Regions from separate parts of the Homo sapiens genome. Here all the other regions are linked to region 1. The links come from fine-mapping of genetic effects on gene expression. A gene starts in region 1. Each other region holds a variant in brackets. All regions are shown on one strand. Distances are from middle to middle. Region 1 holds the start of ZC3H3 (zinc finger CCCH-type containing 3). Region 2 overlaps ZC3H3 (zinc finger CCCH-type containing 3). Region 3 overlaps ZC3H3 (zinc finger CCCH-type containing 3). Region 4 overlaps ZC3H3 (zinc finger CCCH-type containing 3).

The links. PIP is the estimated chance that this variant, and not a neighbour inherited with it, causes the effect.
Region 2: its variant is the best candidate, but not a certain one, in a credible set for the expression of ZC3H3 in nasal epithelium (TOPMed, PIP 0.62).
Region 3: its variant is the best candidate, but not a certain one, in a credible set for the expression of ZC3H3 in subcutaneous fat (GTEx, PIP 0.85).
Region 4: its variant is the best candidate, but not a certain one, in a credible set for the expression of ZC3H3 in whole blood (INTERVAL, PIP 0.88).

What each region holds. Positions count from the first base shown.
Region 1 is chr8:143,539,856-143,542,534 of GRCh38, reverse strand. It overlaps ZC3H3 (zinc finger CCCH-type containing 3), which reads left to right and starts at 1,088. Exons shown (of 12, transcript NM_015117.3): 1 at 1,088-1,159. The coding sequence starts at 1,114. It also overlaps the pseudogene RN7SKP175.
Region 2 is chr8:143,482,020-143,484,698 of GRCh38, reverse strand. All of the region lies in intron 4 of ZC3H3 (zinc finger CCCH-type containing 3), which reads left to right. Among named protein-coding and RNA genes, the nearest start is that of SNORD149, 23 kb to the left of the region's middle. The variant T/C (reference allele first, on the strand shown) is at 1,189.
Region 3 is chr8:143,502,100-143,504,778 of GRCh38, reverse strand. The region is part of intron 4 of ZC3H3 (zinc finger CCCH-type containing 3); the gene reads left to right. Among named protein-coding and RNA genes, the nearest start is that of SNORD149, 2.8 kb to the left of the region's middle. The variant G/A (reference allele first, on the strand shown) is at 1,069.
Region 4 is chr8:143,451,924-143,454,602 of GRCh38, reverse strand. The region is part of intron 9 of ZC3H3 (zinc finger CCCH-type containing 3); the gene reads left to right. Among named protein-coding and RNA genes, the nearest start is that of MAFA, 23 kb to the right of the region's middle. The variant T/C (reference allele first, on the strand shown) is at 1,211.

The DNA of each region.
Region 1 (2,679 bases):
TTTTGGCTATTGGGAAAAATGCTGCAGTGAACATGGGGGCACAAATATGTTTGAGTCTCTGGTTTCCATTCTTTTGGGAATATAGCCAGAAGTAGGGTTGCTGGATCATACCGTAGTTCCATTTTTGTTTTCTCCTAGAAAGGCAGATTGCCACATGCAGCGCCTCATTTGGATGTGTCTGGAATCTTGACTACCCTACCTTCTCCTACAAATGGACCTTGAGAGCTTGTTTGGAGGTTCTACCAGGGAAGCCCAGCTCTTCTATTGGGTATGGTCGTTCTCTTCGACTGAGCTGCAGCTTCGGGAGGGACGCACATGAAGCAGTGAGGAAGGAAGGGGACACCCGCCTAGCCAGCCAGATCAGCCGAATCAACCCTGGCGATCAATGGGATGACAGGTGTCGCAGCCAGATCGCCCTCATATCCGGTAGTTCTACTTTTAACCTTTTGTGGAATCTCCATAGTTTTCTGCGGTGCTGCGCCATTTACATTCCCACCAACAGCGCACAGAGGTTTACACTTGTACATGTTTCCAATGACGAACTAAAAACTTTCATGTTTTCAGAGGTTCAACATGTCTATCCAGGGAACCTTGCTCTCCGATGTCTTCTCCTCTGGCCACAGTAAGAGGTTTCACAGACCCTCCTGGGTCAAGAGTAATTGTTAACTGGCCCTTCTCCCATGGGTCCCCGCGTAGACCCCCCCCCCCCCAACACTCAACTGGGGCGAAATGAAACGCAGGGACTGTGGGAAGGAACTGCGGTATGGGCTGGGTGGGCCCCAGGTCTCGCCCCTCGCCAAGTCTCCCAAGGGGACGCGATCCCGGACTGCACAAGCTGGGCCCGCGCGGCCTCCCAGAGCCCAAGCAGTCCCTTCCCAGCCGTTACCAGGCCACTTCCCGGCGCTCACTAGTGACGTCCCCGCCTCGTTCTGCGCGTGCGCGGCTCTGCCTCTCCGCTGCCGTTGTCAGCGCGACGGCGGGTCCTCGGCGGTCGGCAGACATCCGGGCCTGCTCCTGGCAGCTCCGCCCTGGCCCGCTCCGCCCCGCCCGCGGGAAAAAGGTCGCGTAGCGATGACGTCGTGGGGGCCTGGCCGGCCGTCGCGGACTCGGGAGATGGAGGAAAAGGAGATATTACGGCGGCAGATCCGCCTACTGCAGGGTAGGTCCGGCCGGGGCCGGGACGCGAGTCCCCTTCTTTCCCCCTCACCTCGCGGCGGGTCCCCTGCCCCCTTGTCGAAGGGGTCGCTCACCGCCCGCGTGTTCTGGGTGGCGGCTGGGGTGGGGGACGGTAGGGTCCGCCAGGACTTGTGGGCCGGCTCAGGGCCCGGGTCAGTCCCCGGCTCCAGCTTTGTCGAGGGAGTGGTGCCGGCCCTGCTGGGGCTGCAGAGGGTGGAGGCAGGGCCGTCGCTTAGTAACCCGCGGGGGGCGGCGGCCCTCCCCACCACCGCGGGCTGTCGCGTCCCCCGGCGCCCACTCTCTCCCCGCGCCCCACTGCGGGGCTGGGACTAGTTCATGGCTCATTTCGGCAGAGCAGGCTAAGGGCGCACGCGGGTTCCTTCCTTGACGCCCGGTTTTTTTTGAGACAGAGTCTTGCTCTGTCACCCAGGCTGGGGTGCGGTGACGCGATCACGGCTCACTGCAATCTCCTCATCCTGGGTTCGAGTGATTCTCCTGCCTCAGCCTCCGGAGTACGTGGGATTACAGGTAGGCGCCAGAACGCCTGGCTAATTTTTGTATTTTGAGTAGAGACGGGGTTTCACCATGTTGGCCAGGATGGTCTCTAACTCCCGACCTCAGGTGATTCACCCGCCTCGGCCTCCCAAAGTGCTGGGATTACAGGCATGAGCCACCGCTCCCAGCCTCGACGCCCGGTTTTGATGCCCCTTTTCTCCGAACAGTCACACTCCCCTTGCCATTCCAGGCGCAGACTGAACAGGCTTCAGCTTCCACACTTAAACATTAAAAAACCCAAATTGGTCTTTCTAAACTTAAAAAGAAAATCCATGTTCGGACGCAGTGGCCCACACCTGTAATCCCAGCACTTTGGGAGGCTATGGCAGGAGGATGGCTTGAGCCCGGGAGTTTGAGACCATCCTGGGCAACATGACGAGAGCCCGTCTCTACAGAAAAATTTTAAAAAGTGAGATGGGCGTGGTGGCTTGCGCCTGTAGTCCCAGCTACTCAGAGGTGGAAGGTTTGCTTGTGCCCTGGAGGTCCCGGCTGCAGTGAGCCGTGATTGGGCCACTGCACTCCAGCCTGGGCAACAGAGAAAAACCACATCTCAAATAAAAAGCCAAAACCAACCAAACAAAAAAAAGCTTTAAAAATTAAAAATCCTTTTTGCTTTTACTCTCACAAAGGGAAGACTTAAGGATTGGGAAAGTGTGTATGGATAAGAGGCCAGGTGGGCTGCCTCCCACTTGGGGACACTTCTTGAGCTCCCATCACACCTGCTCTGGGGCGTCAACACGTCTGGACGTGGCTTTCTGTGCCCCCGGGGGCAGGGCCTGTGGTGGGGGAATGCTGATAACTGGGAGGCTGGCTGCTGCCGCCCTTGCCTGTGTTCCTGGCCCTCCTGCACCGGGGTAGCTATCCAGGGACTTATTTGGAAAGTCCTGTGGTTGTGTCAGTTCACTGCAGTAGGACTCTAGCCCATTGATGTTTCCTCTTCTGCAGGGA
Region 2 (2,679 bases), 58 kb after region 1:
CCCAAAGGGTGGCACAGGTGCAGAGGGTCGCGGGCCCGCCAAGGACAGCTGCACCTGGCCGCCTGGCACCTCTGCCGGACGAGCTGAACTCGGCACTCCGGGGCCATGAAGTCCCACTAATACTTGTTTTTTTGCAGCTGACATACAAAACACCAATAGCTTCAGCTGAAATGGATTTTTAAAAGTGTCATTTTATGGAGAATTTTACTTTCCATCTTGTTGTTTATTAGGCTCTTAAAGGGAAAGCTTGTAATGCATCCATTGATCGAAATACCAATTGAATAGATGTGAGCACATAAAATACATAAAATAGTCCCAGCCCCTCATAATGGAGCACGACGTTTGTAACGGAGGCAGTGTCATTAGTATTGCCCCCTGCCACCCAGCCAGGCTGCAGAGGCGCCTCCGAATCCTTCTTATTCATTACTGGGGTGAGACGGGGCAGGGATGGCCCTCGGAAGGACCAGTGCCCAGTGAGGAAGTCCTCAGATGTCACAACAGAGCCTCCACCCCACGAGTCAGCCCAGGGGCCGGGGGAGCCAGCCGTGCTCAGCCTCAGCTGGACCAGTCGCACTCAAGGCTGTCCCTGTCCTCAGGGGCCCCCAAACAAGGCTGCTGTCCCTAAGGCTGCATGGCTCTTTCCCCTCATGGCGCCCCTGGCCGCTGGTGCAGGGCTCTCAGCTCCCACCCAGGCCTGTAACCCTGCCTGCCTGCTGAAGGTGTATCCTGGAAAGCCAAGCGGCTGGACGGTCTCTGCAGGCCCCCATACTGGGAGGTAGATGCTGTGGGGGTGACAGCGGGACTAGAGAGCCCATCTGGCCATGGTGCCGGAGCCCCTGCTGAACAGCAGCTACTGCCCCAGGTACCTGGAGGCCCCTTGGAGCTGGTGAGGGCCCCACGGTCTGGGTATAGGGGTTTGGAGGATAGGGGGCCAGACTTGTGAGGAGTAAGTTAGAAGAGGGTTCTTTCTGTGAGATGAGGTGGCCATAGCCATCGTGAGGCCTGCGTGGCCACCACGTAGTCAGATTTCAGCCCTGGCAGCCACAGGCCCTTGAGCATTTAGCCCTGCCCCTGAGATCGTGGGGGCAGGGTCCAGGAGCCGGGAGCCCGCCTAGCACCCCCACTGCACGCCTCTGCTCTGTCTGGCCTGAGCGCCCCTCCCTGCCGGCCCAGCTTGGGCCCCTCCCA[T/C]GAGGGACTCTGTCTTCCTCCTCCGGAACTCAGGACATTCTGTGAGTGTCTGTCCAGTAGAACCACCTCCCCTGCATTGCCCCAGCCTCACGGGCTGGGCCTCTCCAGCCAAGGGCCCCATGTAGCCTGGCCAACCCATTCGGGGGCCGCAGTGGCTCAGCACCAGGAGAAACCGGGAGGGAGGCTTCCAGCCAGCCCCACACGCGCACACGCATGGACACACATGCATGCTCGCCCTCCCGAGCCAGCACGGTGATGGGGGTGTCAGCGTTTCCAGTGGAAAGCCCCACTTAAGCAGTTTAGTGCCTGTCATGGCGCAGCTCTGCCTGACCTACTTGGGGATTCGCTGCGGCGCCGCCTCCCCCCGGCCGCTCCTCTTCTGCTGACTTCGCACTCCCCGCTCGGGCTCCAAGCTTCGAAAAATTGTGCTCCATTTCCTGAAAATGCTTCTCCGGTTGTTTTCTCTGTGTCTCAGCTGGACTGCCTGTTTACTGCACGTTGCCACTGGCCTGGGCGGCCTGGCCAGGGGCTGCTGGGTCCCCGGCCCACACACAGACACAACCCCGGCCTAGAAGGCCCTGAGGTCGTGTCCCCGTGGCCCGGTACCTGCTCCTGTGGTCCTGCCTCTTCTGGCTGCTAGGGCCGGGCCAAGACCTCGCTCAGCCCTTGGCCTCTCCTGCTGTCACCATACTTATGCCCCCGAGGGTCTTTCCACGTCTGCATATTGCACGTCCCTGTGTCACGTCCGTAGCAGCCTTGCCATCGTCCTGGGGAGACAGGGACAGGCTCGCCCTTCTCGGAGCTCTCAGGGCATGTGTTCTGACCATGCCTCCCTCCTTGAGCCCCGCTGCTCCCTTTGTTCTCAGAGAGCCCATCTTGCCCCAGCCCGCATTCCCAGCGCCTGGCCCTTGCTGCCTGAGCCCACTCCTTGTATCTGCTGACCAAGCCCTGGCAGCCACCTCTCTGCCACAGGTCTCCTTCCTGAGTGTCTGTAACTGACCAGGGCCTCCTGACCCTTCCCCACCCCACACTCCTCCCTTAGGACCTCTTAAGGTCCTGGGAGCCCCAGGGTGGCACACACTTGGGTGTGTTCTCGCAACACACATTTACAGAGCCCCCTGCGTGCCCGGCACATCCGCAGGGCCAGGGGTGCAGCAGTGGTCTTTGCAGATACGGCCCCTGTGCTCATTTTCCCCAGTGGTAAGTAGGGCCGGCCTCCCCAGTGCTGTGACATCTGCACTTGGCCTCAGGCCTGCCCTGGGATCTGGACAGAGGGACAGCACGTGCAAAGACCTGGCGCCAGGAGGGAGCACAGTGCTTTCCAGAAACCAGAACTTCCCAGGAGAACTGGAGTTCTAGGCTGGAGAGAGGCTGCATGGGGGCTGTGGCCAGCAGGACCTGAGTGCCTGGCCCTGCAGGGCTTTCTAACCTGGTCATCTTGAGAACGAGGGGACCCACTGCAGGGTCTTGGCAGGGACTTGATCAAATGTG
Region 3 (2,679 bases), 38 kb after region 1:
TGAGGCCCAGGGGGCTCTGAGTGTTGAGGGAAGGCCCTGGGGGTCTGTGTGTGAAGGCCAGGCTGACCCTGCCCCAGGATGCACATGAAGGTCCCAGGTGCTGGGAGTGGCTGAGCATCTTGGGTAGGGTGTAGTTGGGGGCAGCGCAGTGCAGCGTGAACCTGACAGCCCGTCCCTGCCTGCTTGTACCATGCGAAATGGGTAGGGTCTCTAGGCTTGATTGTGGTGGGGTGTTCAGGACAGGGCCTGAGCTGGAACCCCAAAGACGGAGGAGGGGGCAGGACCTCTACCACCCGTCCTGAGAGGAATGGGACTGGGCCCTGCCCAAGGTGGGGACAAGAAACAGTAACACAGGCTGCCGCAGTGAAGCTTGCACAGCTCTGCTGCTGACAACAGCCCTCACCTTGTCCTCTCTCTGACCCTGTCCCTGGGACCTCCCCTGCCCTCTTTTCCCGTCCCCTCCCCTTGGCTGTGATGCTCATGGCGGGGACTGCACCGCCCTGAGGAGGCACGAGAAGGGGCCCCTCTCCTGGCCATGAGCCCCCAGGACCCCTCTGCAGTTCCTCTCAGCTTTCGGTTGGAGAGCCCCAGGCCCTGAGCTATTGGCCCTAGCTCTGCCCTGGGCACTGGGGAGGGCTCAGGGTGATTAGGCCTGTTCCCTCCTCTGGGAAGCTCTAGAAACTCCCCTTCCCTGCAGCCCGAGGGAAGGAGGGTAGGCAAGTGAGTGCCCGGCCTGAGTCTAGGCCTCTGCCCTGTCCCAGGGGGTGATTTGGCACACGCGCCCTCTCTCTCCCCCTCCTAATTTAAGTAGAAACTTACTGTCGGCCTGGTGGTCATGTTGGGCCCATGTGGAAGGCTGGAGGACAGCGTCAGGGCCCGTTGATGGCTGGGTTTGTAATAGGGGCTGGGGCCTCTCCTCCCTGTCAGCGGCTTTCTCTGGACCTGAACATGGAGGAGGCGGTGGGGAGCCAGCTGGGTGCTGGAGGAGGTAGGTGGTCGGGAGATGGCTGGGTGCTGGAGGAGGTGGTCGGGGGATGGCTGGGTGCTGGAGGGGATGGTGGTGGAGCC[G/A]GCTGGGTGCTGGGGGAGGTGGTGGTGGAGACAGTTGGGTGCTGGAGGAGGTGGTGGTGGAGACAGTTGGGTGCTGGAGGAGGTGGTGGTGGAGCCGGCTGGGTGCTGGGGGAGGTGGTGGTGGAGCCGGCTGGGTGCTGGGGGAGGTGTTGGGGAGATGGCTGGGTGCTGGAGGAGGTGGTCGGGGGATGGCTGGGTGCTGGGGGAGGTGGTCGGGAGATGGCTGGGTGCTGACCAGTGGCCTCAGGTTTGTGGCCGGCCAGTGCTCGTCGTTGTCAGATGGAAGGCAGAGGCTGCTGGGCAGTAGCTTCTGGGGCTTCTGTGTGCTGCCAGCCAGGGTCTCTGAGGATGGGCACACCATTGAGGCACACGCCAGACATCATGTGTGGAGACTGGGGTGGGGCAGAGGGTGGGAGGAGAAAAGGAGCAGTGCCTGTATGCCAAGGGCAGAACGGGACTCCTGCCTCAACGGGTGGCATCCACGGTGCCACCTGTGCTCCCATCAGAGGCCGCGTTGCCCTGGCCTGCAGATGCCCGGCCATGTGGCTGCTTGGGGCGGGGCAACAGCTGACGGGGGCATGCTGGCGGTGTGCTGGCCATGTGCCACCTCTCCCCAGAAGCTGAGGCATGGGACTGGGTTGTTCTGCTGAGCGTGGTGCCCGTCGCATCTGCCAAATACACAGGACGGGGCTGTTGCTCTGGCTCGGGGACCCTGGGAGCTTACTGTACTGCTGCCTTACGCATACCTCGGCCATGCCACAGTGGTCCCTGAGAGCCGGCCTTGGCCAGCCCTCCCCCGGGCCCCAGGACTGCTGCCTTGAAGTGAAGCCTGTCCCAGAGGGCCTGGAATGCAGGGGTGCGAGGCAGAAGGTCAGTGAAGGGTTTTGGAGGAGTCACCCTGAAGGCTGAGGCTCTGCTGAGGGGATTTAATTTTTTTGTTGTTCTGAGATTTGTAGATTTGCCGGTGCCCTCACCAGCTCCAGCAAGTTCATTAATCTGAACTGAAGCTGAAATGTGACTTATATCCCTAACTGCTTGTCACTTTTTTTCTCTTTCCAAATTCATTTGACATGAAAGTGCGAAATAAACAGAAGCTGCTGTGCTTAAGCAGATGAATCGGAGGCTTTTCCATCTGACTACAAATGGTCCTGTCACGAGGCTGCCTCTCACTGGGCTGCCTTATTTTATTTTATTTTAGTTTGTGTCTGTGCGGTAAATCTTAAGTAATCTGTGCAGTTTTGACGAGAGTTAGGCCAGGATTTTGAAGGGCTCTGAAACGCTTCTCCAAAGTGGCGTCTCATTAAAGAGGAATTCAGCCTGGGGACGGGAGGGGTCCTCACTGCGATGCTGCGCTCCCCACGCGTGTCTCCTTAATGAGCAGGTGTGCCTGCACAGCCTCCTGGGACGCCAGCCACCCTGCCCCACCTCCTGCCCGTCTTCTGGTTTGGGCACTGTCTTCGTCGGCTGGGGCCGTGTCACACAGTAGCACAGACTGGGGCTTCAGCATCAGACGCTGACTTCTCACAGTCCTGGGCCGGACGTTTGAGACCAGGTTGCTGGGCAGACTTGGTGTCTGGCAAGGGCCTTCTTCCGGGTTTACAGACAGCTGTC
Region 4 (2,679 bases), 88 kb after region 1:
TGTCTCTACTAAAAACACACACAAAAAAAATTAACTGGGCATGGTGGCAGGCGCCTGTAGTCCCAGCTACTTAGGAGGCTGAGGCAGAAGAATGGCGTGAACCCGGGAGGCGGAGCTTGCAGTGCAGTGAGCCGAGACTGCGCCACTGCACTCCAGCCTGGGTGACAGTGAAAGACTCCATCTCAAAAAAAAAAAAAAAATTATGAATTGTTGGCCAGGCACGATGGCTCACACCTATAATCCCAGCACTTTGGAAGGCCAAGGTGGGCAGATCACCTGAGGTCAGAAGTTCAAGACCAGCCTCGTCAACATGGTGAAACCCTGTCTCTACTAAAGTTACAAAAAAAAAAAAAATTACCTGAGTGTGGTGGTAGGCACCTGTAATCCCAGCTACTTGGGAGGCTGAGGCAGGAGAATTGCTTGAACCCGGGAGATGGAGGTTGCAGTGAGCCGAGATCACACCACTGCACTCCAGCCCTGGGCAACAAGAGTGAAACTCCATCTGGGAAAAAAAAAAAAAAAAGAAAAAGTTATGAATTGTTTATTTCTGGAATTTTCCATTTAATATTTTTGGACCACAGTTGACTTCAGGTAACTGAAACTGCAGAGAGTGAAACAGTGGAAAGGGGAGGACCACTATATAGCTTTTGTAGTGCTTACCTTGGGTATTATATTATATTTGCATGACTGATCCACGTCTGCTGGTGGTGTCGTTTTGCCAGTTTGAGTGAAGTGTGGAAACCCTACCTTCCCTCATCTCCCTTAACCTCCCCTTTTATAACCATCTGGAATACTTCCTCTACAGAAGTTAGAACCACAACAGACACAGTTATAATTTTTATTTCAGTCATCAAACATAATTTTAAAAACTGGGGAAGAGATGGAAAGTCTGGTATGTTTATCCATATTTTTGCTTATCTTGTTCTTTATTCCTTCCTGTTGTGCCAAGCCTTTTTCTTTTGTTTCCTTTTTGTTTGGAGAACTTTAACCACTTTTTAGGGTAAGACTGCTGGTGACATTGTTTTTCTTCATCAGAGAATGTCTTGATTTCCCCTTTATTCCAGAAGGATAATTCACTGAATATGGGATTCTGTGTTGACAGTTCTTTCTTTTGAGCTTGAAGAATGTTATGCCTCTTCCTTATGTCCTCCATGGTGTCTAGTTAGAAATCCACTGTTGTTTGAATTTTTCCCCAGTGGGTAAAATGTGG[T/C]TTCTGTGGGGTGCTGTGACTCGTTCCTGTAATCTCAACATTTTGGGAGAACCAGGTGGGCAAACTGCTTGAGCCCAAGAGTTTGAGATTAGCCTGGTCAACATGGCAAAACCCCATCTCTTTAAAAAAAAAAACAAAAAAACAAAAATTAGTCACACATGGTGGCATGCGCCTGTGGTCCCAGCTACTCAGGTGGCTGAGTTGGGAGGATTGCTTGAGCCCTGGAGGTCGAGGCTGCAGTGATCTATGATTGTACCACTAGGCAAGAGAGTGAGACCCTGTCTCAAAAAAACAAACATAATGTAGTTTCTCTCTGGCTGCTTTGAAGATTATTTCTTTGTCTTTAACTTTCACTGTCTGACATCTGGGGTAGATGTCTTTGGTCTATCCTGTCTGACATCTGGGGTAGATGTCTTTGGTCTATCCTGTCTGAGGTTTGCTCAACTTCCTGAATCTATAGGCTTATGTGTTTTACCAAATTTGTAAAGTTTGTATTATTTCTTTGAGTTCTTTTTGCTCTGTTTCTGCATCTCCAGTTACATGAATGTTAGGTCTTTTGTTGTGGTCCCAAGGTCCCGAAGGCTCTGTTCATTTTTTAAACCTTATTTTCTTTCTGTTGTTCAGATGGGTTAATTTCTGTTATTCTGTCTTCCAGTTCTCTGTCTCATCCATTCAGCTGTTGTGCCACACACTGAGTTTTTTATTTCAGTTATTGTATTTTTTAGTTCTAAAATTTTCATTTGGTTCTACTGTATCTTCTTTTTCTCTGTTGATACTTTCTATTTCTTCTGTTTCCAGCATGTTTGTATTGCATGTAGAAGTGTCTTTGTGATGCTGTTCTGTCTTTATGAAATAATTCTGACGCCCTGTCTGTCAGCGTTGGCGCTGCCCCTCTTCACCGAGCTTGGAGCCTCCCTTGTTCTTAGTGTGAGCAGCCACTTTCTGTGGGAGCCTAGTCATGCTGGCTGTTGGGTGGAGGGGCTGCCTCCTTCTTGCCAGCTAGGAGTGGAAACCCAGCTCCCTGCACTTGGCCTCATTGACACTGTGGAGGGTGGTGTGGAAAACAGACCTTCCCTGAACCTTCCCTCCCTGCCTTGGGGGAAGGAGTTCCACAGTGCCTCTTCCACATGGCCTCCACTGACTCCGTGGGGGATGGAGAAGGGGTGAATGTCCTGGCTTTTCACCACCCCGGCAAGGAAGGGAAGGGCCTCCTGGCCAGGGTTGAGTCCAGGCTCCCTCCTCAGCCTTTGCTGATCTGGCTGGGGGTGCAGTGGTTTTGCGTGTTGGCTGGAATAGATGGCTGTTGCCCGAGACCTTCTGTCTTGCTGGGCTGCCCTTTGCCTGTGCCTCTGGGCATTTCTGGGCTGTGGCTTCCTTGACTCCAAGTCTTGGATGGGGCAGGAAGCAGCCCAAGGGCACCCAGCACCAGTCGTGCCCCGATCCCTTCCATCAGCACCTTCTCCGCAGCC